2 linked regions of the Homo sapiens genome follow. The protein of the gene in region 2 purifies or fractionates together with the protein of the main gene of each other region. This does not show direct contact. Each region holds a gene or a part of one and is shown on either strand. Other genes may lie near its edges. The genes, in order: RMC1 and CCZ1.

Evidence for each region.
Region 1: the proteins of CCZ1 (region 2) and RMC1 purify together in Homo sapiens (affinity purification with mass spectrometry; 2 studies listed by BioGRID and IntAct, with this or other methods). This does not show direct contact.

What each region holds. Positions count from the first base shown.
Region 1 is NC_000018.10:23,508,452-23,524,891, reverse strand, and holds part of RMC1 (regulator of MON1-CCZ1 complex), read right to left. Parts: intron 15,700-16,440; coding exon 15,613-15,699; intron 9,037-15,612; coding exon 8,896-9,036; intron 8,573-8,895; coding exon 8,469-8,572; intron 6,003-8,468; coding exon 5,913-6,002; intron 5,824-5,912; coding exon 5,718-5,823; intron 4,691-5,717; coding exon 4,579-4,690; intron 3,302-4,578; exon of another isoform or gene 2,003-3,301; coding exon of another isoform or gene 1,986-2,002; intron 763-1,985; coding exon 718-762; intron 464-717; coding exon 410-463; intron 1-409. UniProt on the Homo sapiens protein: Component of the CCZ1-MON1 RAB7A guanine exchange factor (GEF). Acts as a positive regulator of CCZ1-MON1A/B function necessary for endosomal/autophagic flux and efficient RAB7A localization.
Region 2 is NC_000007.14:5,890,288-5,906,617, reverse strand, and holds the start of CCZ1 (vacuolar fusion protein CCZ1 homolog), read right to left. Parts: upstream 7,886-16,330; 5' UTR 7,819-7,885; coding exon 7,699-7,818; intron 6,335-7,698; coding exon 6,237-6,334; intron 6,146-6,236; coding exon 6,052-6,145; intron 5,764-6,051; coding exon 5,686-5,763; intron 4,962-5,685; coding exon 4,914-4,961; intron 3,958-4,913; coding exon 3,874-3,957; intron 1,525-3,873; coding exon 1,349-1,524; intron 1-1,348. UniProt on the Homo sapiens protein: Acts in concert with MON1A, as a guanine exchange factor (GEF) for RAB7, promotes the exchange of GDP to GTP, converting it from an inactive GDP-bound form into an active GTP-bound form.

The sequences.
Region 1 (16,440 bases), on a different chromosome or scaffold from region 2:
GAGGCTTCCTCAGCAAGGCCAGAAAGAGGAGCACACCTCCCGGGCTCATGCAGAACAGAAAAGGGCACGGACACCGGTGGGAAGGTCGATGGGAGAAATGAGGGAGACACCCTGGGGTGGAGTCCGGCTTTCCATCCACCCTGGGGTGGAGTCTGGCTTTTCCAGAATGGGCTTAAGCAGGAGAATGGCATTCTTAGTTGTTGCTTTAATTATTAAAAGTAGTATATGTTCTTGATAAAATGCACATATAGTAAAAAACGTATAAAGTGAAAAAAAAAAATCCCATTCCCACGCTTGAAAGGAGGGGTCATTTCTAAGAGATTCACCTTGAAAACGTCCCTGGCTACAACTGGGATCCAAAGTCAACAAGCACCATGTTGTAACACGACAACTGTCCCCGCTGACCTACCTTGGCTTGCGCTGATAATGATGTCAGGTTGAAAGACAATCCAAGATGAAGAATCCACATGTTATAGGAAATTCTAAACCAGGAAAAGATGAAAACAAAAAGCAAACCCAGTTTCCGCTAGCACTCGCCCCTGCCCACCATGTACTGAGTCCACGCTAAACGCGAGGCCCCTGGACAGTCAGGGAAGCTGCCTGCGGGGTGGCTCTCGGAGTGTTATTCACAGCTGCCCGGAGGAGGACTTCAGGACCACTCTCTGAGGGTGACCACTTGCCCTGTTGTGCACGGTGCCACACCTTAGTAAAGGATACAGAGTTTACATGGAACAGGAGACTGGCTGGTCACGGCAGCAGGACCTACAAATTGAGAAAACATAAGTGCAACGATGCAGTCAGAAAATGCTGCAAATGCTGGTACTTATGACACAAAAGTCAATACTTTTTAATGTCATTACGAAATGTTTATTCAATTGTAGTCAAGGAAGAAATGAACTGTTCCGTCTCACTGAAAGCACGTACGGGGAGGAAGGGGGAAGGAGCTAACAATCCAGGAAAATCTCACCAAGAAAAAGAAAGCATGTCAAGGCTTCAATCACTGTGGTTTGGGTTATTTTTAATAACCAAAGATGACTCATGATCGTTTACATATGCACGTTAAGGAACTGAGAAATTTACTTGAAGGATTCAAAATCAAATACCCAGATCATCCACGGAGAATGTTTCAAATAAATGTGGCTTGTAGCTTAATTATCTTTTTTTTTCTTTAAGAGAGGGTGTTGCTCTGCTGTCCAGGCTTGAGTGCAGTAGTTGATCATAGCCCACTATAACCACGAACTCCTTGGCTCAAGTGGTCCTCCTGCCTCAGCCTTCAGAGTAGCTAGGACTACAGGCATGTGACCATGCCCTAACTTTTTTTCTTTTTTTTTTTTTTTTTTTTTTTTTTGTGAAGACAAGGTCTATGTTACCTAGGCTGGTCTCCAACTCCTGGGCTTAAGTGATCTGCCCACCTCAGCCTCCCAACATGCTGCGATTACAGGCATGAGCCACTGTGCCCAGCCACTTAATTATCTAAATAATTAGTTCGATTATCCATTGCATAGAGTAGGTCCAAGCACAGTGAGCTCGTCTGGGAAGCAGACCCCCAAAACCTCACATGACAGGGACCGTTAACAACCAGTTATACTGCTCATGAGCCATGCAGGCAGCCCTACAAGCTAACCATGACTCCTGGTTCTGTTCCAATTACCCAGGTACAATCAGAAGGCAGGTTTCAATCAGCTGGTCAGAGAAAGGGTCATTGTGAACAGACCACCCAAAGGTAGGAAAGAGCCCAGGCAGACAAGCTTTGGCGAAGAGCACTCGCGCTTTGGACCTAAGTGTCAAGGTCTGCGCCGAGTGCACAGCCCTCACCTTTGGGTGGCTGACCTACACACTGTCAGGTGAGAGCTTTCATTTTTAAGGCCCCCCAGATGATCCTAATATGTAGTCAGATTGAGACCCACTGTTCTAACAGGCCCAAAACAAAAAGAAAAAGGGTGGCTGACTCTTCCCAAAAGTGCTGGTTATATCTTTCTCAACAGGCCCATTCAATTCCTGAGCACGCCCACCCAGTGGCAGCACAGTGGGCAAGACACACGGATGCATCAAGCCGCCAGGGCTCACAGCCCAGCAGGAAACAAAAGGAGAGTCACTAACCTCTGAAAATGCTTTGCAGCCCACACTACCTAGATCCCCAGACCCTCAGTGGATTCCTGATTTCCTCCTATTGATCTCTGCACGGGCTGTTACTGTGACCAGGCCTCGCATCTGTTCCCTTATGACCAGATGGTTAGAACCTGATGCCTCCTAACTGGTCCTGTACCACCGGAACAGAGCTGAAGGTTCTAAGCCAGGGGTGTCCAATGTTTTGGCTTCCCTGGGCCTTAAGAGGAAGAAGAAGAATGGTCTTGGGCCACACATAAAATACACTAACACTAACAATAGCTGATGAGCTTAAAAAATATCATTAAAAAAATCTCATAATGTTTTAAGAAAGTTTAAGAATTTGTGTTGGGCTGCATTCAAAGCTGTCCTGGGCCACATGTGGCCCACAGACCGTGGGTTGGACAGGCTTGTTCTAAATGTTTAGTTTTTTTCCCCCAATTCACCAGCAGTTACCTTCATGCCAAGTGGGCAGCAGACACAAGACAATCACTTGGCAAAATCTATTCTTTCAATACTAACATTATTTACAAAGGAAAAGGAAGAAGCTTGAAAGAACACAGAAAGCCAAAAGACCTAATTGAACGTCTGTTAAGAACCAGCTCCTTCCTCCAACTGTGCCAGAAAGTAACTAAGCTTTTGGCTGGTCCAGCAAGACAGGGCAGTCAGGCTGACAATGGTGCTCTTGCTGAACTTTCAGCCAGAGTGCGATTCTGAACTCCCGGGTGAACGGTACAAGGAAATCCTGACTGCAGGCTGGGTCAACCCGCCCAATGCCATCGGACAAAGAATAAAACATTACTACTAGGGTTCCAAATGTGAGCCATCTGACTACGTCTTGCACACTGAAACCTCAGACTAGCCAATTCTGCACTCCAATCTCCTTCAAAAGAGAGCCGGGAGAGACTGCTGCGAGGGACAGGCACAGAAGAAAGACCCTGTGAGAACACAGTGAGAAGGTGGCCATCTGCAAAGAGGCCTGCCAGGAGGGAGGCCTCAGAAGAAAGCAAACCTGCAGACATCTTGATCTTGAACTTCTAGCCTCCAGAACTGTGAGAAAATAAAGTTCTGTTTAAGGAAAAAAAAAAAAGAGAGAGAGTGTGTGTTGAATATTCTTTCAGTTCTATCTTAAAATCAATTACACTGGAAAAAGGCAAAACGAAGCAAATAAATGACTTCTTTCCCTTTTCCTGAATTCCTGACCTCCACTCTTCTGACTTCCCAACCCCACCTCTCCAGACAGAAGGAGGACTGATTTGGGTAAGCCTAAGAGCCACAGCCGAAGCACTTACTGTGACTGTCAGTCCCAAAGAATGCAATATTCATCATCACTGTCACACGGAATGTGAGAAAGAGAAAAGTGATCCCAGGTTACAGTAACAAACCTACAGCCAAAGTTAATTTCAGCGTTACAGAGCTAAGGCAAACAGAAAACGTTACGGGTGTATTCAATATTAAAACATATTTCACCATCAACGGCTAATCAAAACTATCCATTCTAAAGCTCAGGGAAGATAAATTATTCTATTTCCTCCCAAGGGAGATTCATCTATCTTAGAAAATGCTTTTTTCACAACATAATTTTAGCTTATAGGATCAGTAGTAGTTGCATTTTTTAAAAAACTAGAACAGGCTGGGCATGGTGGCTCACACTTGTAATCCTAGCACTTTGGGAGAGCGAGGCAGGCGGATCACCTGAGGTCAGGAGTTCAAGACCAGTCTGGCCAACATGGTGAAACCCCATCTCTACCAAAAATATAAAAATTTGGGCCAGGCGTGGTGGCTCATGCCTGTAATCCCACCACTTTGAGAGGCCAAGGTGGGCAGATCACTTGAGGCCAGAAGTTCAAGACCAGCCTGGCCAACATGGTGAAACCCCATCTCTACTAAAAATACAAAAAAATTAGCTGGGCGTGGTGGTGCACGCCTGTAATCCCAGCTACTTGGGAGGCTGAGGCAGGAGAATCACTTGAACCTTATCTCCTCTCACAAGTATTTAAGCGATTGAATACTTGGTTCAATTGCTTGAATACCTCACAAGCTTGAACCTTGTGACAGACAGGTGGAGGTTGCAGTGAGCCGAGATCATGCCACTGCACTCCAGCCTGGGCAACAAAGTGAGGCTCTGTCAAAAAAATAAATTTAAAAAAATATAAAAATTAGCTGGGCACGGTGGCACACACCTGTAATCCCCACTACTTGGGAGGCTGAGGCAGGATAATCACTTGAACCCAGGAGGTGGAGACTGTAGTGAGCCAAGATCACGACACTACCTACCAGCCTGGGTGACTCAGTGAGACTGTCTCAAAACAACAACAAAACTGGAACAAATGGCCCCTGGCAAAATCAGACAGATCTGGGAATCTCTGTTTATTCCTCACTCCACTTTTAACGTGACTCCCAAAGATCATGGTGAGAACACAGCCACATGGTGAAAGGGCAGCACAGACTCCTCTACAGAACCCGTGTTACCTGTGATGGGGATCTGATAGGGCTGGATCGATCGAGCGGGAAGCACGGGGTGGTGGAAGGTAACGGAGCCGTCAAACTCTCCCCGTAACTTGATATCGAATATTACCGATGTCTGGGGGGGAAAAAGACAAGACTGAGGCCAAAATCAATCATGGTTTGCCCAGTTGCTTTCATTCCATCCCATCTTGCTGTTTAAATCAGTTTAAAAGCCTGTGTTTGCATTTCCTCCCTACAGGCTAGCTCTTACTTGAGAAGGAATTTGTCATTAACATCACAACTCTCTTTTAATATTTTTATCTCCTCTCACAAGTATTTCCTGCATTTATGACATGCTTCCTTTGATGAGCTCACTCAAAGTGACCTAAGCAGATCTCTGTCATTTCAACTGGAAACATCCTCACGTGTCACAGAGTTAGCGTCACCACCCTCTGGGAGGGTAGAGGAGGTAAGCAGCTTCTTTATATCAGAGGCCCAGCCCACAGGACCCATTCTAGTTGTCCTGGTCCACACGGCCTCAAAACCATTATCCCCCAGCACTGTCATCCATGCTCACAATTGCAACAGAGAGTTCAAGTACTCGTGGAATGGAGCGGATTCCCACCTTCTTCCAAGGTCAAATCTCAAGCGTTAGTTTCTGAAATAGTTTTGAATTATCTTTAATCAACTGACACAATCACTTTTTTCTAAACTACTTGAGACTACCAAACCCATTTCCATCTGGAAGACCAAAACTCTTAGCATAAAAATGCACTTTCTAGTCTTATTCAGACATTTTGCCAATTTTTTTTTTTTTTCGGAGACAGGATCTTGCTCCATCACCCAGGCTGGAGTGCAGTGGCGCGATCTCCACTCACTGAAGCCCCGACCTCCTGGGCTCAAGCCATCCTCCAGCCTTAGCCCCACAAGTAGCTGGGACTATAGGCGTGCACTACCACGCCCGGCTAATTTTTGTATTTTTTATATAGGTGGGGTTTTGCCATGCTGCTCAGGCTGGTCTCGAACTCCTGGGCTCAAGCAATCTGTCCGCCTTGGCCTCCCAAAGTGCTGGGATTACAGGCGTGATCCACCGTGCCCAGCCACCAATTTTCACAAGGCTTTTAAGCAACCTTAACTTTGGTAGAAACGCAGACAGCTTGTACCTCTGTATCCTGATGATGCACGACTACCAGGTTGTCCACCACGTTCAGGGCAAACTTTCCCGTCCTATTTAACTTCAATATGTGCATCTTTTTACAGGCACCTTCTCTGTAGGATAGAAAGCAAAAAACAGATCAACAAGCTGCAGTTCACATTTTAAAATCAGAGAGAGAGGGAAAACAAAGCATGAAATCTACCGTGGTAGATGATAGAGGACCACCTCCGCTCCTGTGCTGTTGGAGGTCCGAGAATGATGCCTCAAGAAGAGAACATACAGCTGCCCGTATCTAATTAGGGAACAAACAGACATAAATCACATCTGGCCATTCAAAATTCCTTTGTTCTAAATGGCATCACGGTTAAGTAAATTATAAGATATTCACTTAATGGAGTATTTTGCTGCCAACAAGTGTTTACAAAGAAACATGCAGTTACTCAAAGCCTATTATAAAGTTAAGTGGAAAAGAGAACACACACTAAACACAGCTTGATCATAATATTTTAAAAGAAAACCCCAAACCTAAGCATAGAGTCTAAAATGATTGGAAAGAAACACATGTAATAGTTATACTTGAGTGATATGCTAAGTTCATTTTCTTCTCTGTTTTCCAAGTTTTGTATAATGAATGTATATTCCTTAATAACAGGAAAATATAATCACTATTTTTTTTTTTCATTTTTCAGAGACAGGGTCTCCCTCTGTCACCCAGGCTGGAATGCAGTGGTGCAACCACAGCTCACTGCAACCTCCACCTCCTAGGCTTTGGCGATCTTCCCTCACCTCAGCCTCCCCAGTAGCTAGGACTACATGCACGTGCCACCGTGCCTGGCTAATTTTTAAATTTTTTTGTAGAAACAGGGTCTCACTATGTTGCCCGGGCTGGTCTTGAACTCCTGGCCTCAAGGCGATCCCCCTGCCTTGGCCTCCCCAGTCACTGGTATTACAGGTGTGTGCCACCATGCTCAGCCTTTTCTATTTAAGTGCCATCTAATAAATGTTGCTGTGAACAGTTCCTGAATGCATATTCTAGTCCAGTGGTAAACTCTGTGCTGGGCCTGCCCAGGGACAAGGAGGAGACCAAGGTGGGAGGGAACAGGTCCCCACCTCCACTTCAGCCAGGACTGCTCTCACTTTATCTATTGTCTAAACAGGAATGCTGGCTGGGCACGGCGGCTCATGCCTATAAACCCAGCACTTTGGGAGGATGAGGCGGGAGGATCACCCGAGCCCAGGAGTTCAAGACCAGCCTGGGCAACATGGTGAAACTCCATCTCTTCAGAAAATACAAAAATTATCCAGATGTGGTGGCATGCGCCTGTAGTCCCAGCTACTTGGGAGACTGTGGCAGGAAAATCACTTGAACCTAGAAGGCGGAGGTTGTGGTGAGCTGAGATTGTAACACTGCACTCCAGCCTGGGCAACAGAGCGACACTCTCCAAAAAAAATTTAAAAATAAACAGGAATGCCACAGAAGAGTACGTTTAAAAAAAAAGGAAGAAGAAATGAAAGAACATTATACTAACTACCATAAAGTTTGAAAGTTTGGGCCACTGTTTTAGGCCACAGAAGAATCAGAAGTAACTTAGAAGCAAAATTTTGACTATTGTCGAATCAGATACAGGCATACAGGGGTTCTTTTTTATTAGTCTCTATTGTGTGTTTAAAATTTTCATTACAAATTTAAAAACTGAGATATCCACTTTTTCAAATGAAAATATACCTCCGTACTGCCAGGCGTGGTGGCTCACGCCTGTAATCCCAACACTTTGGGAGGCTGAGGAGGGCAGATCAAGAGGTCAAGAGACCGAGACCACCCTGGCCAACATGGTGAAACCCTGTCTCTACTAAAAATACAAAAATTAGTTGGGCATGGTGGCACGCACCTGTAGTCCCAGCTACTCGGGAGGCTGAGGCAGGAGAATCGCTTGAACCTGGGAGGCGGAGGTTGCAGTGAGCCAAGATCGTGCCACTGTACTCCAGCCTGGCAACAGAGCAAGACTCCATCACAAAAACAAACAAAAAAAAAAAGTAAAAGAAAATATACCTCTATATATACGTAATTTAGTTCCATGTCTGTTACATAAAATCTTAATCTATTTTCTTATTTAGAACAATTATTATTTAACTGAGCTTTTAAAAAAAATAAACTTGGCCAGGCACAGTGGCTCATGCCTGTAATCCCAGCACTTTGGGAAGCCAAGGCAGGTGGATCACTTGAGGTCAGGAGTTCGAGACCAGCCTGGCCAACATGGTGAAGCCCTGTCTCTACCAAAAATACAAAGACTAGCCGGGCGAGGTGACGCACACTTGTAATCCCAGCTACTTGGGAGGCTGAAGCAGAAGAATCGTTTGAGCCTGGGAGGTGGAGGCTGCAGTGAGCCGACACTGCACCACTGCACTCCAGCCTAGGGGACAGAACAAGACTCTGTCTCGAAAAAAAAAAAAAAAGAAGAAGAAATTCTAAAACAAAGATACTAAGAAATAAATTGGTTCAATGTTCTTGTTTTATCAGGCTAGAAAGGTAAAGGAATTCCTTAGCATCACAAAGCTGATAAAAATCAAAAAGGAATGCCAAAAACACTGCAGGTTTTCTATGTTCACAGGACCTATACACTGAATACCCAGAACAAGGGGAGTCCTCCTTATGTGTTCTAGGGGTCAGGGCATCACGTGGTGCTTGTAACACACTCCTTCTATTATTTATATTACTGAAAGCAATCACAGGATGGAATTCTCTCTGACACGGACATACATGGTAGCCATTGCGATGTCTCTTTCGGAAAGGCTGGGTTTAGTTGACTTAGGCGCAGCTGGTAATTCAATCTCAAATTTGGGCAGCTTCGACATAGTGCCAGCCTGTTTAGGGGGAAAATGTTTTAGGAAAAGCTTATTAAACCCCTTCAATGTTTCATCATTCCCTGTGTAAAACCAACAAGGATAAACACAGACTTCGTCTTTGGATCCTTTCCACCGTCCCCCATGTCCTCTCACAGCCTGTCTGCCCAGCATAGAATGAATGGCTCCAGGAGCTGACGGGTATACAGAGTGCCCTCTAGTGGTCAGAGCGGTGACGTTACGGCTAGAGGAACCTGTCCCTAACGTGCCTGACACATTAGGATGCTACAGGAACAGGGGACAACTGGGGAAAGGTGTTTTTTTCAGGGGAGGCTTCCTCTTACCCTAAAGTGAAAAGGCTGCAGGACATTCTCCAGGACCGTGGTAGACAGCAAGATCACGGCGCTCTCGGGGCAGTACATGTACCAATTCACATTGAGATTGTGGCTCTTCAAGAGTTTCAGACTCCGTTTCTCTGGTAATACCTGAAGCAGAGTTTAAGAAACAGGATCTTCATTTAAAAAACGGCAAACTAATCCCAGCACTTTGGGAGGCTAAGGTGGGCGGATCACCTGAGGTCAGGAGTTCGAGACCAGCCTGGACAAAATGGTAAAACCCCATCTCTACTAAAAATACAAAAATTAGCCAGGCGTGGTGGCACATGCCTGTAATTCCAGCTACTCAGAAGGCTGAGGCACAAGAATTGCTTGAATGAACCCAGGAGGCAGAGGTTGCAGTGAGTCAAGATTGCACCATCACACTCCAGCGTGAGTGACAGAGCGAGATTCAGTCTCAATTAATAAATAAATCAATAACAGCAAACTGTCAGAAGATCCTTACAGTGCGCTCTGAGAATAAAAAGCAGAAGAAACCCACTAAGTGAAATGAACATTCTCACTTGTACTTATTACAGCTACTACTTAACCAGCCCTATGCTTGGTGCTTTACAGAGCCTCCTAACTCATTTACTCTTTGCCACGACTGAGAGGCAGGCATCACTGGCCCTATTAGCCAGATGAGAAACAAGGCTCCAAGAGTGGATTAGGGAACCTGCCCCTTAACAAAGCAATTATAGCCTGGGTAGGCTGTTTCCCTCCAAAATCCTTATCTGTGCCTCCACATGCCTGGGCATGTGGAGCACATGGATACACCTAAGAGCAATTTACAACAAATTTCTCCTCATCCAGGAAACGGCCAAAAGAAACTGACACCTCCAGGACCCCATGTGTTAACTCGGCCACCTCCCAGACCATGGCAGATCTGCCTTCTGCTTGGCCTCCACCTCGACTCCAGTCTACACTGGGCCTGGGAGGAGCTCCCTTCTTCTAGCAGATGTGTTCATAAGACTCCATACAAATGCAGTACTTTATAATCCAGGCACATTTTCAATGTACCCTAAATATTCCGATATTACAGAACACTGTACAGAGCCCCCAAGACATTAATGCTCATGGTACACTGCACTGAAGAACTGCTGCGCAAGTCAGGGGCAGGAGCCGTAAGCTTCTTAAGAACTATAATAATTAGGATGTGCTAGAGTCTTCTTTCTTTTTAACTTTTTTCTTGAAGATCTGAAGCCATCTAGGTAACCTTAAGGTATACTTTCCCACTGCAGAGAACAGAAAGACAGACTTTTAAATGATTACCATAGGGAACTCCCCCAGAAAGCAAGCCATCCTTCCCATGCAATCACATGTACAAAATTCTATTTCTGTGTGTATGGAATTTGTCTAAAGTTTGTTTAAAGTTCTCCTATTGGTCATTACAAATTTTTTTTTTTTTTGAGACGGAGTTTCACTCTTGTTGCCCAGGCTGGAGTGCAGTGGCACAATCTCGGCTCACCGCAACCTCCACCTCCCACGTTCAAGGGATTCTTCTGCCTCAGCCTCCCAAGTAACTGGGATTATAGGCGCCCACCACCACACCCAGCTAATTTTTGTATTTTTATTTTGAGACAGTAGAGACGGCACTTAGTAAAGATGGAGTTTAATAGAGACGGGGTTTCGCCATGGCGGCCAGGCTGGTCTCGAACTCCTGACCTCAGATGATCGCCCACCTCGGCCTCCCAAAGTGCTAGGATTACAGGCATGAGCCACCGTGCCCAGCCAGTCATTACTAAGATTTCGATGATGGCCTTACAGCAAAGCACCATGGCATTAACACACAGGTGTATTTTCTCTAACCATACATTCTAAATTATATGACTTTCATTAGGTCAACAAAATTAAAACCTGAAAGAACTCTTAACACCCTCTAAATTAGTTCCCCTTAGAGATCTCAGAAGCATGCTTAATAGGTCAGGAAGCTGGAACAGATGAAAAGAAACAGGCAGGTACATCAAAGGACACAATCCACAGAGTGGAAAGGCAACCTCCGGATTCGGAGAAAATACTTGCAAATTGTATCTCTAAGAAGGTGTTAATATCAGAATATATAAAGAACTACAATTCAACAAATAATAGTAATTTGATTTTAAAAATAGGCACAATGACCCGAATTAGTCATTTCTCCAAAGATGATACACAAAGTGGCCAAAACACACACACAAAAGTGCTCAACATCACTAATCAACAAAGAGCGCAAATCAAAACCACAATTAAGATGGCTAGTATCAAAAACAAAACAAAACAAAACAGCAAGTGTTGGTGAGGATATGGAGAAACTGGGACCCTTGTACACTTGGAGGGATTGCAAAATGGTGTAACTGCTATGGAAAACAGTATAGCGGTTCCCTAAAATATTCAGAAACAGAACTACCATCTGCTCCAGCAATCTCACTCTGGGTATAAATCTAAAAGAACTGAAAACGGGATCTTGAAGCGGTATCTGCATACCTGTATTGACAGCAGCACTATTCACAATGGCCAAGAGGCAGAAGCAACCCAAATGTCCCTCAACAGATGAATGGATAAGCAAAATGTGGTGTATACGCTCAGTGCGGTATTATCAGTCTTAAAAAGGAAACCCTATCACATGCTATGGCATGGGGGAACCTGTAGGAAATTATGGTAGATGAAATAAGCCAGTCACAAAGGGACAAATACTGTATAATTTCACTTATATGAAGTATAAAAGGTAATCAAATTCGGCCGGACACAGTGGCTCACGCCTGTAATCCCAGCACTTTGGGAGGCTGAGGTGAGTGGATCACCTGAAGTCAGGAGTTCAAGACCAGCTTGGCCAACATGGTGAAATCCCATCTCTACCAAAAATACAAAAATTAGCCAGGCGTGGTGGCGCACACCTGTAATCCCAGCTATTCAGGAAGCTGAGACAGGAGAATCGCCTGAACCCAGGAGACAGAGGTTGCAGTGAGCTGAGATCACGCCACTGCACTCCAGCCTGGGCAACAGAGCAAGACTCCATCTTAAAAAAAAAGGAGTCAAATTCATAGAAACAGAAAGTAAAATAGAGATTGCTGGGGCTGCAGGGAAGGGATAAGGGGAGTTGTTTACTGGATAGTTTTGGTTTCACAAGATGAAAAAAGTTCTGGAGCTATTTCATAACAATGTGAATGAATATACTTAACACTACTGAACTGAACACTTAAAAACAGTTAAGATAATAAATGTTGTATGTTTTTTTACCACAGTAAAAAAAATATTTTTGACCACACACAGTGGCTCATGCCCATAAATCCCAGCACTCTGGGAGGCCAAGGCAGAAGAATGGCTTGAACCTAGGAGTTCAAGACCAGTCTAGGCAACACAGCAAGACCTCATCTCTACAAAAAAAAAAAAAGGAAAAAAAAATTAAGTTGGGCGTGCTGGCACACACCTGTAGTTCCAGCTACTCAGGAAGCTGAGGTGGGAGGACTACGTGAGGCTAGGAGGTCGAGGCTGCAGTGAGCCGTGATTGTGCCACTGTACTCCAGCCTGGGTGACAGAGATCCTGTCTCAAAATAATTATTACAAAATAAAAAAATTTTAAGAGGAAGTTAACAAAATACAAATGGACAATATACAAATGAAAAGATGCTTACTTCCCTAGTAATGTAAAATGCAAATTAAAATGTCTTTCGGCCAGGCATGGTGGCTCACGCCTGTAATCCCAGCACTTTAGGGGGCCGAGATAGGTGGATTATTTGAGGCCAGGGGTTCAAGACCAGCCTGGCCAACATGGTGAAACCCCACCTCTTCTAAAAATACAAAAATTAGCCAGGCGTGGTGCTGGGCGCCTGTAGACCCAGCTACTTGGGAGGCTGAGGCAGGAGAATTGCTTGAACCCAGGAGGTGGAGGTTGCCGTGAGCCGAGATCGCACCATTGCACTCCAGCCTGGGCGACGGAGTGAGACTCTGTCTCAGAAAAAAAAAAAAAAAAAAAAGTCTTTCTACCTCTCAGGTTGGCAAATGTCTATAGACTGATAATATCCAGTCCTCCTAAAGGTATGAAAAGCAGAAGTTCCTATATTGCTAGTGAAAATACACATGTCTAGAAGAAATTTGGCGATACTGGTTCAGCTTTTCAGATGTTCGTACCTATACTGCAACTCTCCCTCTAATATAAAGAAGTGTGTACAAGCATGTTACTGAAGGGTTATTTGTAATCACAAAAAAATGGAAAACCAGCCAATGTCCAATAACAAGAAAATTTTTAAACTGCAGTCCATCCATACAGTGGAATACTACCCAGTCAGAATAAAATATAGAAAGATGTCCAAGATACACTTTGGACAAAAAAAAAAAAAGCTAGCTGCAAAAGTTTATATACAACATTCCCCTTTTTGTTAAAAAGAAGTTTGTATTTATTTTTAAAAATAGAGGAATATGCACCAAACTGTTCATAATAATTATTTATCGGGATTATAGGGAACATTTGCTTTCCATATTACATATCTTGCAATGTTTGAATGTTTTTTGTTTTAACTTTTAGGTTCAGGGATAGATGTGAAGGTTTGTTACATACGTAAACTCATGTCACGGGGTTTGTGGTACAGATTATTTCATCACCCAGGTATTAAGTCCAGTACCCAATAGTTATCTTTTCTGCTCCTCTCCCTCCTCCCACCCTCCCCTGCTCAAGTAGCCCCCCGTGTCTGTTGTTTCCTTCTTTGCATTCATAACTTACATTTAGCTCCCACTTAGAAGTGAGATCATGTGGTATTTGGTTTTCTGTTCCTGTGTTAGTTTGCTAAGGATGATGGCCTCCAGCTCCATCCATGTTCCCACAAAAGACATGATCTTGTTCATTTTTATGGCTGCATAGTATTCCATGGTATATATGTACCACATTTTCTTTATCCAATCTGTCACTGATGGGCATTTAGGATGATTCCATGTCTTTGCCATTGTGAACAGTGCTGCAATGAACATTCACGTGCATGTGCCTTTATGGTAGAATAATTTATATTCCTCTGCATATTACACCCAGTAATGGGGCTGCTAGGTCAAACAGTAGTTCTGCTTTTAGCTCTCTGAGGAATCGCCATACTGTTTTCCACAAAGGTTGAACTAATTTACACTCCCAGCAATAGTGCATAAGGGTTCCCTTTTCTCCACAACCTTGCCAGTATCTGTTATTCTTTGACTTTTTTATAATGGCTATGCTGACTAGTGTGAGATAGTTTCTCATTGTGGTTTTGATTTGCATTTCTCTAATGATCAGTGATGTTGAGCTCTTTTATGTTTGTTGGTCGCATGTGTGTCTTCTTTTAAAAAGTGTCTGCTCATGTCCTTTGCCCACTTTTTTTTTTTTGAGACGGAGTCTCGCTCTGTTGCCCAGGCTGGAGTGCAGTGGCACCATCTCAGCTCACTACAAGCTCCGCCTTCCAGGTTCAAGCAATTCCCTGGCCTCAGCCTCCCTAGTAGCTGGGATTACAGGTGCCTGCCACCAACCTGGCTAATTTTTGTATTTTTAATAGAGACAGGGTTTCGTCATGTTGGCCATGCTGGTCTCGAACTCCTGACCTCAGGTGATCTGCCCACCTCGGTCTCCCAAAGTGCTGGGATTACAGGTGTGAGCCACTGTACCTGGCCTTTGCCCACTTTTTAATGTTGTTGTGTTTTTGTTTTTTTTTTTGAGATGGGGTCTCACTGTCATCCAGGCTGGAGTGCAGTGCTGTGATCTTGGCTCACTGCAACCTCCTGCCTCCCAGGCTCAAGCAATCCTCCCACTTCAGCCTCCCAAGTAGCTGGGACTACAGGCGCACACCACCATGCCTGACTAACATTTTGTATTTTTTATAGAGATGGGATTTCATCATGTTGGCCTGGCTGGTCTCAGACTCCTGGACTCAAGCCATCCACCCACCTTGGCCTTCCAAAGAGCTGGAATTACAGGCATGGGCCACCAAGCCCTTTTTCTTTTCTTTTTTTTTTTTTTAATTTATTACTTGCAATTATAAAAAAAAAAAAAAAGAATAAAATCCCCAGCAAGAGACTAAAGCTGAGTGGCCAAGGCAGGAGTTGAGGTTAGGAGTTTGACACCAGCCTGGGCAACATAGCAAGACTTCGTCTCTACAAAAAAGTTTAAAAATTAGCCAGGGCCGGGCGCAGTGGCTCACGCCTGTAATCCCAGCACTTTGGGAGGCCGAGGCGGGTGGATCACCTGAGGTCGGGAGTTCGAGACCAGTCTCAACATGGAGAAATCCCGTCTCTACTAAAAATACAAAATTACCCGGGCATGGTGATGCATGCCTGTAATCCCATCTACTCACGAGGCTGAGACAGGAGAATCGCTTGAACCTGGGAGGCGGAGGTTGCGGTGAGCCGAGATCGCGCCATTGCACTCCACCAGCCTGGGCAACAAGAGCGAAACTCCGTCTCAAAAATAAAATAAAATAAAATAAAATAATAAAAAGAAAAATTAGCCAGGCATGGTGGTACATGCCTGTAGTCCCACCTACTCAGGAGACTGAGGCAGGAGGATTGCTTGAGCCCAGGAGTTTGAGATTACAGTGAGCCATGATGGTGCCACTGCACTGCAGCCTGGGCAACAGAGCAAGACTCCATCTCTAGAAAATGTTTAAAATATATATATATATATTCAGTACTGAATTCAAAAGGCTGCCAGAATGCTATCACTGAACTTTAACCAACAAACATAAATGATAAACATAATACCTGGTAAAATTCGATTCCTTGATCTGTTATGAAGACAATTTCAGTTGAACTAGTCCAGCAGAATCCTAGAATGTTGGCATTCTTAGTCTAAGAAAAATTTTTTAAAAATATTTTTAATTAATAAGAAAAAACACATATAACTCTCTTCAAAAGCTTCACAAACTCTGCAGTTTGTCATTCTTTAATGAACGTTCCCCGGAATGTTTACTAATTAACAAAACAAATTTTCTTTTAAATACAATGTTCCCTGATTTTTGCCCATAACTCTTCATTCAAGAACCTGAATCCTAATTCCTTCTACTAAACAGAACAGGAGAAGTCTGTGTTTTGTAGAAAAGTAACTGACCAGAGCTCACAGACAGCAGCTTCTACCTGCAGGAATCACCATACTGCCAACATTCTTAGTCACCCACGTTATAAAAATGGTTATTAAAAATGTACAAAGGCCTAAGGGTCTTTAGTGAGTGTTGACTAAAATGGGTTGAGGACCCTGAGACACACACCCGACTCGCTTGAGGGCAGACAGGTTTGAGAAGGGCCGGGCTGAGGGTCTCTTCACACGGGGCCACTGCAGGGCAGGCAGGACAGTGGTGGGGATGCACCTCTCCTCACCAAAGAGTCCGCCCTGAACTCCATTGAGCAAAACAGTCACAAAAATGCAGAAAGCCCTACCCCAACCACTAGCAGCTTCTGTCAGCGCCCAAGGTGCCACACTGCCAATTTTAGCTCAGCTCCCTCTAGCCTAGTTTACTACACCCAGCAAATCTCATTAATGTGGATTAGAATCAACACCTAGGAGAAGAAAGAAAGAGTAAGGACAAGACAAAG
Region 2 (16,330 bases):
GGTGCAGTGGCTCACACCTGTAATCGAGGCACCTTGGGAGGCCTATGCAGGGGAATCACCTGAGGTCAGGGGTTTAGGACCAGCCTGGCCAACATGGTAAAACCTTGTCTGTACTGAAAATACAAAAATTAGCCGGGCATGGTGGCATATGCCTGTAATCCCAGCTACTTGGGAGGCTGAGGCAGGAGAATCGCTTGAACCCAGGAAGGGGAAGTTGCAGTGAGCCAAGATCGCGCCACTGTACTCCAGCCTGGCAACAGAGTGAGACTCCGTCTCAAAAAAAAAAAAAAAAAAGAAAGAAAGAAAGTGGGCTCTAGTCAACGGGAACATAAAACTTGAGGGTCCCAGAACAGCTGCAAGCCTTGATGACTTCTGTCCACCTACTCTAGGCCAAATGTGCACAACCTCGGTTGCCACCCAGCTCTCAGGGGTCACATATGCTGGGCAGTCTTGTGCCCACGTTGTTCCTACTGCAGGACACAAACCTAGTTTCACGATAGCAGGTAATTTCCTGGTTTATATAACACTTTGGATTTCTTGGATTAAAAAAAAAGAAATCTAGTTTCTTTAAAAGAAAGTAGGTGCAGTGGCTCGTGCCTGTAATCCCAGCACTTTGGGAGGCTGAGGCGGGTGGATCGCTTGAGGCCAGGAGTTTGAGACCAGCCTGGGCAACACAGTAAACCCCGTCTCTATAAGAAAGAAAAAAAAAAAAAAAGGTATAAAAATTCTGCTTTTATCATTTCAGAAAAAAAAAAAAACTCCAAAATAAAAACAGGATTCCTAAACCTTACTTGATAGGAACATTTTCTCTTTTTTTTTTTTTTTTTTTTTTTTTTGGAGACAGAGTCTCTCTCTGTTGCCAGGCTGGGGTACAGTGGTGCCATCTCGGCTCACTGCAACCTCCGCCTCCCGGGTTCAAGTGATTCTCCTGCCTCAGCCTCCTGAGTAGCTGGGATTACAGGCATGCACCACCACGCCCAGCTACTTTTTGTATTTTTAGTAGAGACAGGGTTTCACTATGTTGACCAGGCTGGTCTCCAACTCCTGACCTCGTGATTCACCCGCCTCAGCCTCCCAAAGTGCTAAGATTACAGGTGTGAGCCACCGTGCCCAGCCTTTCATCTTTCATGCAACCAGTTTTAAACTCCTCTGCTTGGAAATTTGAACCCAAATCACCCTAGTTCTGCTTTAAATAATCACTGCTTTATTTTGACAATATCTATGAAGATGCTTCCTACCCATCCTCCCCGCTGCAAGTTCCTGTTTGACAACCTGTCATCAATCCAGTCACTGCTGTTTTTATTATCTTAATTTCTTCTTTTAATACCATGCCTCGGGGTGTACCTACCAGATGAGCTGATCGTTATAGAGAAAAGCAGTGTATTTGACTATATTCAGGCTTTCCTCCATTCTATTAATAAAGGACTGGATTTTCAAATAAGTCATTTTATCCAACGGGAAGAAGCTGATTCCACCAAAAATGTCAAGTAGGTCACATGACTGCAAATGTAGCGTTTGCAAATACTGTGGGAAAAAAAATAAGGCATAAAATTTACTAATAGTACACTGAATATAATGCTCCTTGATAACTGAAAATAATCTTATGTCAGACTCACATTTATGGTACAATTACATACTAGCAAACAGCGCAACAATGAGGCCGTGGTGAAGACATGGGTAACTGAGTGCCAACTCAGTCTCAGTACCAATTCCAAGATACAAAGTTCAAACATATCTACTTAATGTTTATTCAGTATTGTGTTTTACTGCTTTAAATTTATTTTTTTGTGACAGAGTCTTGCTCTGTCATCCAGGCTGGAGTGCAGTGGTGCGATCTCAGCTCACTGCAAGCTCCGCCTTCCAGGTTCACACCATTCTCCTGCCTCAGCCTCCTGAGCAGCTGGGACTACAGGCGCCTGCCACCATGCCCAGCTATTTTTTTCCATTTTTAGTAGAGATGGGGTTTCACCATGTTAGCCAGGATGGTCTCAATCTCCTGACTCGTGATCTGCCTGCCTCGGCCTCCCAAAGTGCTGGGATTAGAGGTGTGAGCCACCACGCCTGGCCAAAAATTTTTTTTTTTTTTTTTGGTATAGACAGAGTCTTGCTATGTTGCCTAGGCTGGTCTTGAACTTCTGGCCTCCGTGATTCTCGTGTCTAGGCGTCCCAAAGCGCTGGGAATACAGGCATGAGCCACTGTGCCCAGCTAGCACTTTCAAGTTTTTAATTCCTGGCCAGGCACAGCGGCTCGCGCCTGTAATCCCAGCCCTTTGGGAGGCCAAGGCGGGCACATCACTTGAGGTCAGGAGTTTGAGACCAGCCTCGCCAACATGACAAAACCCCGTCTCTAATAAAATTACAACATTAGCCGGGCGTGGTAGCCTGTAATCCCAACTATTCAGGAGGCTGAGACAGGAGAATCACTTGAACTTGGGAGACTAAGGTTGCAGTGAGCCAAGATCACACCATTGCACTCTAGCCTGGGTGACAAGAGTAAGATTCTGTCTCAAAAAAAAAAAAAAAAAAAAATTAACTCCCTGCCTTAATGCTCTTCAAATTAGACTAACCTAATGAGGGATCTATCCATTAATACTACAGAGAGTGCCATCTTTATTTCCCCCCCCGAGATGGAGTCTTGGTCTGTCACCCAGGCTGGAGTGCAGCGGTGTGATCTCGGCTCACTGCAACCTCGCCTCCGGGGTTCAAGCGATTCTCCTGCCTCAGCCTCCAGAATAGCTGGGATTACAGGCGTGCGCCACCACGCCCAGCTAGTTTTTTGGTATTTTTTAGTAGAGATGAGGTTTCACCATGTTGGCCAGGCTGGTCTCGAACTCATGACCTCAAGATCTGCCCGCATCGGCCTCCCAAAGTGGTGGGATCACAGGCGTAAGCCACCACACCCAGCCAAGAGTGCCATCTTATACTAAAATCATGTCTAAATGATATGTACTCAGGACAACAGTTCTATCCATATGTTGATGGGTAAGAGAGAAATGAGGACAAGAACAGAAACCAGGAGATAATATGCGAGTGGATAACTGTGGTCATTAAAATGACAAAACAAAGAAAAGTAATTCAGAGAAACAAAAAAATTCAAAAATAGCTATGAAAGCTGTTTTAGAAAGTCGAATTCAAAAATAGATACAGAAGGTATTTTCAGAAGAAAATAAATTGAGAATTGTTGCTTCGAGATAAACTAGGCTGGGCGAGTTGGCTCATGCCTTTAACCCCAGCACTTTGGGAGGCCAAGGAGGGAAGATCGCTTGAAACCAGCCTGGGCAAAACAACCAAGACAAGACCCTGTCTCTTTGTTTCCTTTTAAAAAAAAGATAAACTGAGCTTGACAAGGTAGGGTGAAACATGCAAAATTCAATTACAACGAAAGAGGACAGCACTTGGAACAAATCTCCCCAATCGCTAATCTGACAAAGTCTGTCAAGGCCAGTAACTCTTACCTACATCAAGACGGTTCACGCCCGTTTAGTGAACAGAACCAATCCCTGAGATTGTGCAACTCCAATAATTAAGTTTTCCTTATCAACTAATCTATCACACAAAAGATGGCTGCTGAGTAAGCCCAGAAGGACAGATGCAGGTAAAACACAGGGAGGCCAAACGATGTCTCCAGGACCCTTTAAGAGCCCCGGGCAAACGCAGGAAGCTCTGCCTTACACCACAGCTGGAGGGAAGGTTCCAGAGCACAAGCCTCATGCGTTTCCTCGCTGCTCCAGTTTTGCGACGGTCTGTCTCAGGCTCTTTGCCACTTTCAAGTTCTGGGTTTTTTGTATATAAGAAACAAACTTGTCTGTCTATATTTCTCTAAAAACCTGCTGAATGCTTACTAAAGTTATAAATGAAATTCAAAATACTTACCCGATGGAAGAATTTCTCTAATCTTTCTTTCAGAAGCTTGACGCCTCCGTCTTCCATGGCTTTCAGAAATGTACCATTAAAAAGCTAGTGAGGTAAAAGATTGCAGGAAAAAAAATCAGTTTCCTATGCTCACTTTTTCAGTATAACAAGTTCTTTTTTTCCTTTAGATTATTAATTCAGCTCATTAAATCTCCCAGTTCTTTCCAACAGAGAATATTTACATGAGAAAACTTGAGTTAAAAATGTAAGTTACAAAAAATACTGTTAAGTGATGCTGTCTTATTTATGAAACCACCTAATTGCTCTAGGCATCTTTCAAAAATTTCAACTTACCCTGAAGTTTCAATTTACATACATAATATCACCCACATTTCTGTTTTTTTATTTTTCAGTGTTCTGTTAATAAATGGAATCACCAAACTTTTTATCCTTTTTTTTTTTTTTTTTGAGATGGAATCTCGCTCTGTTGCCCAGGGTAGAGTGCAGTGGTGCAATCACAGTTCACTGCAGCCTCGACCTCCAAGGCGCGAGCGATCCTCCCACCTCAGCCTCCCAGGTAGCTGGGACTACAGGCATGCACCATGATACCTGGCTAACTTTTATAAAAATTTTTTGTAGAGATGGGTTCTTGCTATATTGCCCAGACTGGTCCTGAACTCCTGGGCTCAAGCAATCCTCCCACCTTAGCCTCCCAGAATGCTGAAATTACAGGTGTGATCCACTGTGCCCTGCCTCACTGAAACTTTTAAATCATAAAATTATCTGCATTCTGTACATTCCTTGAGCACATAGACACACTTTTTCATCAATGGGGACACATTCCTACTATAAGGCTGAGAAAAGAGAAGGGAGTTCAATACTTACTGAATAAATGTAGGCATAAACCTCACTACCTGTTTCAAAGGCCTCATTATTTTCTTCTCTAAGACAAATACAGAGTCACTTTGCAGTCATTTACAGATTTCTCTTTAAACAACCCTGGAGCCTAGAGATAGGGGTAAGTGGCTGGACTCTGAGTTGAGAAAGAACGCCACGCTTACCTTGTACATGCTGTAGCACTGCCGCAGCACCGAGCTATAAACCTTGTCCTGCAGACGCGAAAACACAGCACACAGCTCAGTTCAAGGGAAAAACAATGTCTACTGGATAGATGGCAAAGGTACACTAACTCTTGGCCAAACAGTATAATGTTTATAAACTTTGTCCCACAATAGTTGCGTGCTGAAAAAAAAGTGTTTGCGTTCTTTTTTTTTTTTTTTTGAGATGGAGTCTCGCTCTGTTGTCCAGGCTGGAGCGCAGTGGTACAATCTTGGCTCACTGCAACATTTGCGTCCCCGGTTCAAGCGATTCTCCTGCCTCAGCCTCCTGAGAAGCCGGGATGACAGGTGTGCGCCACCATCCCTGGCCAGTTTTTGTAGTTTTAGTAGAGACAGGGTTCCGCCATATTGGCCAGGCTGGTCTCGGACCCCTGACCTCAAGTAATCTGCCTGCCTTGACCTCCCAAAGTACTAGGATTACAGGTGTGAGCCACTGTTCCCAGCCAGAAGTGTTTAAACTCTAATTTGTGAATCAGTAAGCCTTACTTTAGGAGGGCTTTCAATATAAATGAAGAGTAGAAGGTATTAGTGAGATTGGGTGCATATACATTTTAAAAAGATTGTGCTCATGTAAATGATAAACATAAACCTTTGCTATATACCCCGAGAAACTTCTGCAAAAGCCTCCTAGTTTAAATCCGACCAAGTAAGGCATTCAACATACTCAGCAATACATTTAAAAAAATAAATAAATAAACAAACAATGACACATTACCAACAACTCCTCCTCTTGATATTCAATAACTGGTTTTCCATCTTTACTCTGTTTTTCAATTATAGGATTCCGAACAACCTACAAAGTTTGATAAACTGAAATTATACAATGAATTCATTAGACCATGTTTATTTTGCCTTAATTTAAAAACTTTGAACATGCTACAGCATCAGAAACATAGCTTCTTAAAACAGCCCCAAGAATGAATAAAGCAAATAGGAAGAACTTGATTTTAAAATTGCAACCAATTTTATTTTAATTTTACTTGGATGCAACAGCCAGAGAACTTTCCTAAATTCTGAACAGTAAAGATCACCCATAACTTCACCATACAATTTCAGAAAGATACACTGTGTATGTAAATACCATGACCATCCAGAAATTTTCTTCTGGTTCATTGAAGAACTGTCTGTTCTTCTGTGTATGTAAAGATTTTGCAGGTTTTGATGGGCTAAATGTCCTACAAAGGTTAAAAAAATATGTTTGGGACAATTCTCCAGCAGCAGTTTTAAGAATTCACTGAACGCTAAAAGCACACTTAGAGGTATTACCTTGTAAACTGTACAATAGCTTCACACAATCCGACATTTCTAATCTTCTCATTCTTTTCTACCTCATTTGGATGATAAAATAAAATCTTATTTTCCTCCTGAAACATGAGGAAACAGAAGCACAACATGAATAGAAACATTTCATCTTAGCTATTGAAAACGCTAAGTTCAATGTCGACCTCTTGTGTCACACATGCTAATGACAAAACAAAACAAAAACCGGTTTTAGAAAAACAGGAATTGTAATCCTAGTATTTTCAGAGGCTGAGGCGGGAGGATCACTTGAGCTCAGGAGTTCAAGACCAGCATGGCAACACAGTGAGACGTCTCTATTATTTAAAATAAGAAGAAGAACAGGAATGATCTCATCATTGTGCAAATACTGCCCACCAGTCAGAAAGGCAATTTCGATAGTCAGTAAGTCACATCTGAAGTAGCACCAGGTAATTTTTATGAAAACTCAAGTCTCTAGGTTTCTTTCCTAGTGCTAATTTGTAATACACCAATGCTTGTAAGAAATAAAGGTGTGCCCATCTGCAGACACATAGCTCCCTGAAAATTAAATCCAGTCAGTTCCCAGCCATTTGAACTGACAAGTTGCTTTTTTTTCTTTTTCTGGAGATGGGGTCTGTGCTGCCCAGGCTGTAGTGCAGTGGCGCTATTACAGCTCACCTGCAGCCTCAATCACTTGGGCTCAAGCGATCCTCTGGCCTCAGCCTCCTGAGTAACTGGAAATACAGGTGCGTGCCACCACGCCCGGCTCACTTTTCAATTTTTTTTTTTTTTGTAGAGTTGGGGGTCTTGCTATGTTGCCCAGGCTGGTCTGGAACCCCTGGCCTCAAGCAATCCTCCCATCTCGGCCTCCTAAAGTGCTGGGATTACAGGCGTGAGTCACAGCGCCCAGCCTGGACAGTCTTTAACAGAAGTCTGACTTGCTGGAAACAAAACACAGCTCCGGACATCCTTTGAGAAAGTCGCCGTCCCCACCTCAGAAAAACCACACACACACACACACACACACACACACACACACACACACACACACACCCCCCTCCCGAAATTAATTTATTTCCTCATTTGGGCGAAAACTATTACAGGGACCTCCAGGCTTGCATCATTTGAAGGCTAGCGTCTGCCACCCTGGTTCCACGCTTCTAGTTGGGGACTACCCACTTAACAAAGCCAAGTTCAATTTTAATTTCCCAGAACTGACGCAAAGCAAAGCGCAAAGAGCCTCAACCTGGGGTGTGGAGTGATATAGACCCGACGGGGCTTTATTCCATCGACCTAGGACCTGAAGCGGTCCCTGCCTGCTGTCAGGTCCCCGCCGCAGCCCCCTGCCCGGACTCGCACCTGGCACAATGCAGGCTAGGTCAGTGCCCCTCGAGGTGGGCAGAACCACAGGGCCACCTTCCCGGGGAACACCGGCGCCGCCCGCCCGCGCGCCGCCCCCTCCGCATACCTGTCCTTCGCGCGGCCCGAAGCGCGGGTTGTAGATGAAGAAACTCAGCAGCGCCGGCGGGAACTGCTTCTCCTGGGCCGCCCAGGGCCCGCTCCCGGCCCCGGCCGCCGCTGCAGCCATCCCGCCCCGGCCCCCACCTCGGGAGCCTCCCACGGCCCGCCCAGAGACAGCAGCCACCGGCTAAAACACCGCACTTCCGCCTCCGTCGCCACCGCCCCGGAAGCGCTCGCCGCAGGCCCGGAAAAAGAATCCGCCTCGCAGCGTCCTCTTCAGGCACCCCCGGGTGGCTGTTTCCTGGCCGAGTTTGTGTTTTCCTGGCTCGCGGAGTTTTCTCCTGGCTACAGGCGAGGGCTGCGCGTTTCAGGAAAAACCGAGCGGGCACTGTTTTTTTTTTGTTGTTGTTTTTTCTGATAGGGTCTCAGTTTGTCATCCAGGCTGGAGTGTAGTGGCGCGATCTCAGCTCACTGCAGCCTCAACGTCCGAGACTCAAGCAATCCCCCTGCCTCAGCCTCCCAAGTAGCTAGGATTACAGGCGCGCGCCACCAAGGCCAGTTTTATTTTTTTGTAGAGGTGGGGTCTGTGTTGCCCAGGCTGCTCTCGAACTCCTGGCCTCAAATGGTCTCCCACTTCGGCCTCCCAAAGTGCTCCGATTACAGGCGTGAGACACCACCGCCCAGCCTGTTGTTGTTTTGGTGGTATTGTTTTAAATTTAATTTAGAGACAAGATCTCGCTTTGTCACCCAGGTTGCAGTGCAGTGGTGCCATCATAGCTCACTGCAGCCTCAACTCCTGGGCTCAAGGGATCTTCCCACCTCAGCCTGAGGAGTAGCTGAGACCACAGGCATGCACTACCATGCCCAGATAATTAAAAAATAGATAGATAGATAGTAGAGACAGGGTCTCACTTTGTTGCCCCGGCTGCTCTCTAACTCTTGGCATCAGGGGATCCTCCTGCCTCTGCTACTGGATGGAAGGTCTTGACCGTGGATTGCCCAGGTTCTTGGCTTGTTGAACACAGAACTGAACAAAATGCAATGCACAAAGTAACAAAAGAACAAAGCAACGAAAAGAAACAAAAGAAAAAACTGAAGTAAGGAAGAAACAGATTTATTGAAGCGAAAGTACAACTCACAGAGCAGGAGCAAGCTAGAGCAAACAGCTCAAGAGCCCCCATTAGGATTTTTATTAAGCTGGAAGAATTAGGTAACGCCCCTAGGTGCCCGTTAGAGGTCTCCGATTGGTTACACCCTCTGAAGGATTGGCCTGTGACCAATCAGAGGCTGAAGTGGAGACGCGCACCCGCCCCCCCCCCCCCCCCCGTCAATCAGAGGCTGTCACCCTCCCCCCCGCCCCCCCCCCCGTCGTCCATCAATCAGCCTCTGATTGAGGGAATGAACACGTGGCCTCTATGCTGCCTAATCTTGCCTAGAACTGGCTGCACCTGCTGTTCTTTTGTTTATGCCTTAACCCTTGGTTACCCTCATTCCCTATTCTGCCTCACCTGCCCTCCCAAAGTGCTGGGATTACAGATGTGAGCCACCCACACCAGGTCCATTGTTTTGTTTTTAGTTTATTTAAAAAGTATTTTATTCTAAAACAGCACTTTGCTCTGTTGCCCAGGCTGGATTGCAGTGGCCAGATCAGACGTCACTGCAGCCTGGAACTCCTGGGCTCAAGTGATCCTCCCACCTCAGCCTCCCGAATAGCTGGGACCACAGGTGCATGCCACCATGGCTGGCTAATTTTTAAATTTTTCGTAGAGCTGGGGTCTCACTATGTTAACCCAGGCTGGTCTCGAACTCCTGGACTCAAGTGATCCACTGGCCTTGGGCTCTCCAAGTGCTGGGATTGTAGGCATAAGCCCCTGTGCCATGGCAGTTTTTTTTGTAGAAGGAAATGTAGAGACACAAAGGAAGCCTCATTTAGAAATAAACAAGGCTAGCCACGGTGGCTCATAGCTGTAATCCCAGCACTTTGGGAGGCCAAGGTGGGTGGATCACTTGAGGCCCGGAGTTCCAGACCAGCCCCGTCTCTACTAAAATACAAAAAACTAGCCAGGCGTGGTGGCACATGCCTGTGGTTCCAGCTACTTGGGAGGCTTGAGGCAGAAGAATTACTTGAACCCAGTAGGTGGAGGTTGCAGTGAGCCAAGATTGCACCACTACACTCCAGCCTGGGCAACAGATCCAGACCCTGTCTCAACAAAAAAAAAAAAAAAAGAAAGAAAGAAAGAAGAAAAGAAAGAAAAGAAACACACTTAAGGGCAGATGTGCATTCCGTTTGGCCCATTAACATCATCTACAGAGTCCTTGTTTGAGAGACCTCAAGTGACCACTGGATCACCCACACCTACAAAGTTTGCCCCTTTCCCCCATTCCTTCAGCGCAGGTCTGGAGGCAGATGGGGCACCGTGTGTGCCACGGGAGCAATATCAGAGGTGGCAGACTCCCCAGAGTGGCTGTTCCTGGACCTTGCTGCCTGGGATTCCCTTGCCTTTGAGGTGTGTGGGTTGTGGCATAGTTGGGATGGCTTGTTACAGTTATGTGGATTCAAGCCTTGGCAGCATATGGTTTGACCAAGCTCAAGAAGACTTTGGTTTAGATTGCCTTATCTGTCACATATTAAGTTTGGAAGCAGAACCACTTCCCTTATCCAGCCTGGCAGAATAGACCACTTTTAGGGAAGTGATGAGTTGGAATTTGGACTGGAGACAGATCTGGGTACATATCCACTTTTGCCACTCACCGACTGCACCAATCTCCTTGCACCAAAGAAGAGATGGAGACTCTCTTGTCTGTATCTCTTATTTGGAAAATGGCTAATAGTAAATTCCTGCCAAGTGAGAGTTTCACTTGAAGAGTTAAATGGGACTATGAATGTGCATCAGGTGCCAGCACCTCATCATTATTTCATAAACGATTGCTACTGCTCCTTGCTATTGACTTTCCCAATTAGCTTGCTCTAGTGCATGAAATTATTCCATGAGAAATACATGTTTTGGCTGGGTGTGGTGGCTCATGCCTGTAATCCCAGCACTTTGGGAGGCCGAGGCTGGCAGATCACTTGAGGTCAGGAGTTTGAGGCCCAACATGGTGAAACATCGTCTCTACTAAAAAATAAAAATAAATAGCCATGCGTGGTGGCAGGTGCCTGTAGTCCCAGCTACTCGGGAGACCGAGGCAGGAGAATTGCTTGAACCTGGGAGGCGGAGGTTGCAGTGAGCTGAGATTGCGCCACTGCACTCCAGCAGCGGGATGGAGTGAGACTCTGCCTCAAAAAATAAATAAATAAATAAATAAATAAATAAATAAATAAAAATAAAGCACAAGGTGCTATACAAGTGAGTGAGATTAATATTTTATAGTATGAGTCACAGTTTCTCCCAGGATACCTCTGTGTCCTTGTACATGTTTGCCTCTCCCTTCCTCCCACATAGAATTCATTGCAGGAGGCATCGAAAGAGGGAGATGACAAAAAACAAAATTAAACATGCAGAGATCAAAGAAAAGAACATGCTTTTATGGTTTCAAAGTTAAGGATGCAAGAACGCTTAGAGCTCAATGCATCTGCCTCTCCAAACACAGTCCTTGGGTGTGGACGGGTACGAGGCAGGAGTGGTAGTGATGACAGATACCCGCATAGGTTTGGAGGTCTCAGAGGAGAGGGTGTGTGTGTCTTTCTCCCTGGGGAAGCTGGGGGAGGTGGTGAGCTTTGCAGAGTTCCCCTCTGGGTCCAGCATGGCTCAGTAACAGTAGAGTAACCAGGGAACAGGGGTATCTGGACGAGATATCCTTATTGTTCAGGAAGAAGCTGAATGATTTACTTGTGCATAAAAGGAATTCAGAGAAAGCCAGTGCTGAGAAGCCTCAAGGTCAGGACCAGGAGGAGGTAGCAGTGGCCCCTCAAGACCACGAGAGTAGAGAGGATTGAGGATGACTCTGTGTTCACTATTCGGACTGAGAATACTCCAGTCCCATCTGGGGCCTCGACTCTCTCCCCCAGCCTATGGTAAGAAGGGAGAAGAGGTTGCTTAATTACCTGACATAATTAAGATTCTGACTCCCAGCACAATGGGAATTCGAATCAAGTTCAGTTACAGAAATAGAAGTTAGACGTTTTGCACAAAGAATTTGCGAACTCAAAATTCCAAGGGAATGAGCTGTGGGAAAGACACATTTTGGTGTTGGAAAGGGAGCTCAGTTCCAAGTAGAAAGTCACAGTTCCGGCCAGGAACAGTGGCTCACATCTGTAATCCCAGCACTTTAGGAGGCCAAGGCGGGCAGATCACTTGAGGTCAGGAGATTGAGATCAGCCTGGCCAACATGGTGAAACCCCGTCTCTACTAAAAATACAAAACTTAGCTGAGCGGGGTGGCATGCACCTGTAGTCCAAGCTACTCAGGAGGCTGAGGTGGGAGGATCACCTGAGCCTGGGGAGGTGGAGGCTGCAGTGAGCCATGATTGCTCCCCTGTATGCCAGCCTGGGCAACACACCGAGACCCTGTCTCAAAAACATAACAATTTAAGGTGAATAGATTTACAGTCATTGTAGAGCCCCTAGGAAAACAATGTCAAAATCTATACACCCCGCCAAAAACAAGTTGACTTTTTGAAACCTGTGAAAACATATGCAAATGAAGAGTCTTTCCAGTGAATAAATTAACAGGCCAGGTGGAAACCATCCTGGTGATTCCAATTTCATCTGTCTTCTTAAGTGTTTGCAAAGTAACCTCATACCTTAACATGAGCAGAAGAGATAGAAGATAGGTTTTTGCTTGCAGTTGGATTCCTGAGTACCCATTCCATAAACTTAAACTGCAGTCATGACAGAGAATTAACTACGTAGCTTGTAAACCTGTACAAATAGGCAAGTATTTCCTATCATCACTGTTTTGCTATCCGTTGCTTATGAGCTAGAAAGAACTACTTTGTAAATACTGCTACTACGTCTCTACTAAGTACTACTACTTAGTAAATAACTACTTACAAAATCCTAAAGCATTTATGAGTATCAGTACTTAGCAAATGACTACCTACAGAATACTAAAACATTTACTGAATAGCCGTACTTAGCAAATGACTGCTTACAAAATATGAAAGTATTTACTGTGTAGCAGTACTTAGCAAATGACTACTTACAAAATACTAACATATTTACTGAGTAGCAGTACTTAGCAAATAACTATTACAAAATACTAATTAATTAGATTTTGTGCAATTATATAGTAGTGCTAAATATTAAAATACTTAGTATTTACAAATTGCTAAAGTATTTACTAATTAGTGGTACTTATAGTATTTACAAAATCTTATAAATACTTCATCATGTACAGATGCTGAAGCAAAATACTAGATAATGTTTGAAGTATTTTAATAATTCTTATTAGTCAACAACTAAACATTCACAAAGCTGGTTTTTAAATTTTTATTTTTTTATGCTAATCTCTGTATTGTTCCAATTTTAGTATACAGGCTGCCAAAGCAAACACACAAAGCTGGTTTTAAGATCATGTCCTGGCCGGGCGTGGTGACTCATGCCTGTAATCCCAGCACTTTGGGAGGCCGAGGTGGGTGGATCACCTGAGGTCAGGGGTTCAAGACCAGTCTGGCCAACATGGTGAAACCCCGTCTCTACTAAAAATACAAAAATTACCCTAGTGCGGTGGCAGGCGCCTGTAGTCCCAGCTATTTGGAAGGCTGAGGCAGGAGAATTGCCAACCCGGGAGGCGGAGGTTGCAGTGAGCCGAGATCGTGCCACCGCGCTCCAGCCTGGTGACAGAGTGAGACTCCATCTCAATAAATAAATAAATAAATAAATAAATAAATAAATAAATCATGTCCTACCAAAATATGAACTACTCTCCCAAACTATAAGCCAAAATTACAATTAAGTAAAAATGGTCAAAATGAAAGCCCACACTTCCAGTCCTGTTTTATCAGCAATTAGGGAAAATAATAGGATGCCTAGTTTTTCAACTCTGTGACCTACGTTGCAATCTAGACCTTCATTTCTTTCTTTCTTTCTTTCTTTCTTTCTTTTTTTTTTTTGAGCTAGGTTGTTGGTCTATCATCCAGACTGGAGTGCAGTGGTGCGATCACAGCTCACTGTAGCCTCCAACTCCGTGGGTCAAGGCATCCTCCTGAATAGTTGGGACAATAGCCGCACCACCACGCCCAGCTAACTTTTAAATTTTGAGATGGGATCTTGCTATGTTGCCCCAGCTAGTCTCAAACTCCTGGGCTCAAGTGATCCTTGAACCTTGGCCTTCCGAAGTGTTGGGATTACAGGTGTGAGGCACCACGCCTGGCCATGGACTTTCATTTCAAAGTCAATATATGGCCAGGCGTGGTGGCTCATACCTATAATTCCAGTACTTTGGGAGGCCAAGGTGGGCAGATCATCTGAGATCGGGAGTTCGAGACCAGCCTGACCAACATGGTGAAACCCTGTCTCTACTAAAAATACAAAATTAGCCAGGCGTGGTGGTGCATGCCTGTAATCCCAGCTACTCGGGAGGCTGAGGCAGGAGAATTGCTTGAACTGGGGAGGCGGCAGTTGCGTTGAGCTGAGACTGCACCATTGCACTCTGGCCTGGGCAACAAGAGCGAAACTCTGTCTCAACAACAACAAAGTCGACGTACATCATTTTGGTGCTGAGAACAAGCTCTCTTGAGGTAGACCTGTGGTCATCTACAAATTAGGTAAAAATTGAGAAGGCAAGCGCAAAGATAAAGTTGGTTATATGTCTGTCAATCCCTTTTCTGGATTGTTCTAATTTTCTCTAGAGTTTTGATTTCGTTTTGGGTATGTTATATTTAACAGTCTCCTTCAGTACATGAAAATACATGCAAATGAGTCAAACAATGAATAGAAATTTTGGGAACAGAATAGCATGCCAAGCTTTCATTAATTTGAGTGTGGGACACACTCTAGGCATGAAAGATTTTTTTGAAATCAGAATTTATTACTACTTTGGGCCACGTGCGGTGGCTCATGCCTGTAATCCCAGCACTTTGGGAGGCTGAGGCGGGTGGATCACCTGAGGTTGGGAGTTTGAGACCAGCCTGGCCAACATGGTGAAACCCCATCTCAAGTAACAATACAAAAATTAGCTGGGCATGGTGGCAGGCACTTATAATCCCAGCTACTTGGGAAACTGAGGTGGGAAGATCACTTGAACTCAGGAGGTAGATGTTGCAGTAGGCCAAGATCACGCCACTGCACTCCAGCCTGGGGGCAACAGAGCGAGACTCTGTCTCAAAAATAAAAATAAAAAATAAAGAATAAAGAATTTATTACTACTTTGGTTTAATGATAATTATTGGGCAAACTCTGCATCTCTTTTCATTTTATTTATTTTATTAATTTATTTTTGAGACAGGGTCTCACTCTATCACCCAGATTGGAGTGTAGTGGCATGATCATGGCTCACTGTGGCCTCAACTTCCAGGCTCAAGGGATCCTCCCACCTCAGCCTCCCGAGTAGCTGGGACCACAGGTGCATGCTACCACACCCAGCTAATTTTTAAGTTTTTTTGTAGCGACACGGTCTCCCTATGTTGTCCAGACTGGTCTTTTTTAAAATTTTAATTTTAATTTTTTTCCTTCATTTTCTGTAGTTACCATGCTGCACTTTATTTTATTTCTTTTTATTTATTTATTTATTATTTTTTTGAGATGGAATCTCTCTCTGTCACCCAGGCTGGAGCACAGTGGTGTGATCTCAGCTGGCTGCAACCACCACCTCCTGGGTTCAAGTGATTCTCCTGCCTCAGCCTCACAAGTAGCTGGAATTACAGGCGTCTGCCACCACGCCTGGCAAATTTTTGTACTTTCAGTAGAGATGGGGTTTCACCATGTTGGCCAGGGTGGTCTCGAACTCCTGACCTCAGGTGATCCACCCGCCTCGGCCTCCCAAAGTGCTGGGATTGCAGGCATGAGCCCCTACACCTGGCCCAGCTGCACGTTCATAAAGGCTCCAGTCTTCTCTCCCTGTTCTGTAATCCTTCCAGCTGGAGATAACTAGGATTAAAATTTTACTGCATCTCCTTTCATTCTTTTTATTGTGAGATACATGTTGAATAGGAAATTTGTATGAAATTCATGTAATGACTAAACTCAGGTAACTTGAAAAAATTATTTTCAAATTATACTTCCCATCAAAGACTTGGAAATGCTCCTTTTTTTTTTTTTTTTTTTTTACAAAATGCAAACTTAGAAAAATAACAACGAAATCAAAAAGTGCTAATTAATGAATATGCTCAAATGTGCAAAGAGGCCAGCCATGGTGGTTCATGCCTGTGATCCCTGCACTTTGGGAGGCTCAGGTGGGAGGATCACTTGAGGCTAGGAGTTCAGACCACCCCTGGCAACATAGCAAGAACCTGTCTCTACAAAAAATACAAAAATACAGGTGACCACCTGTAGTCCCAGCTACTTGAGAGGCTAAGGCAGGAGAATCACTTGAGCTCAGGAGTTGGAGGCTGCAGTGAGCTGTGATTGCATCACCACACTCCAGCCTGGGCAACATAGCAAGACCCCATCTCTAAAAAAATTTTTTTCTAATCCCCAGAGAGTTTTACTTGTATGCACAGGTGAAATAAATCCCACTCAACCCCACCGGAGCACACCC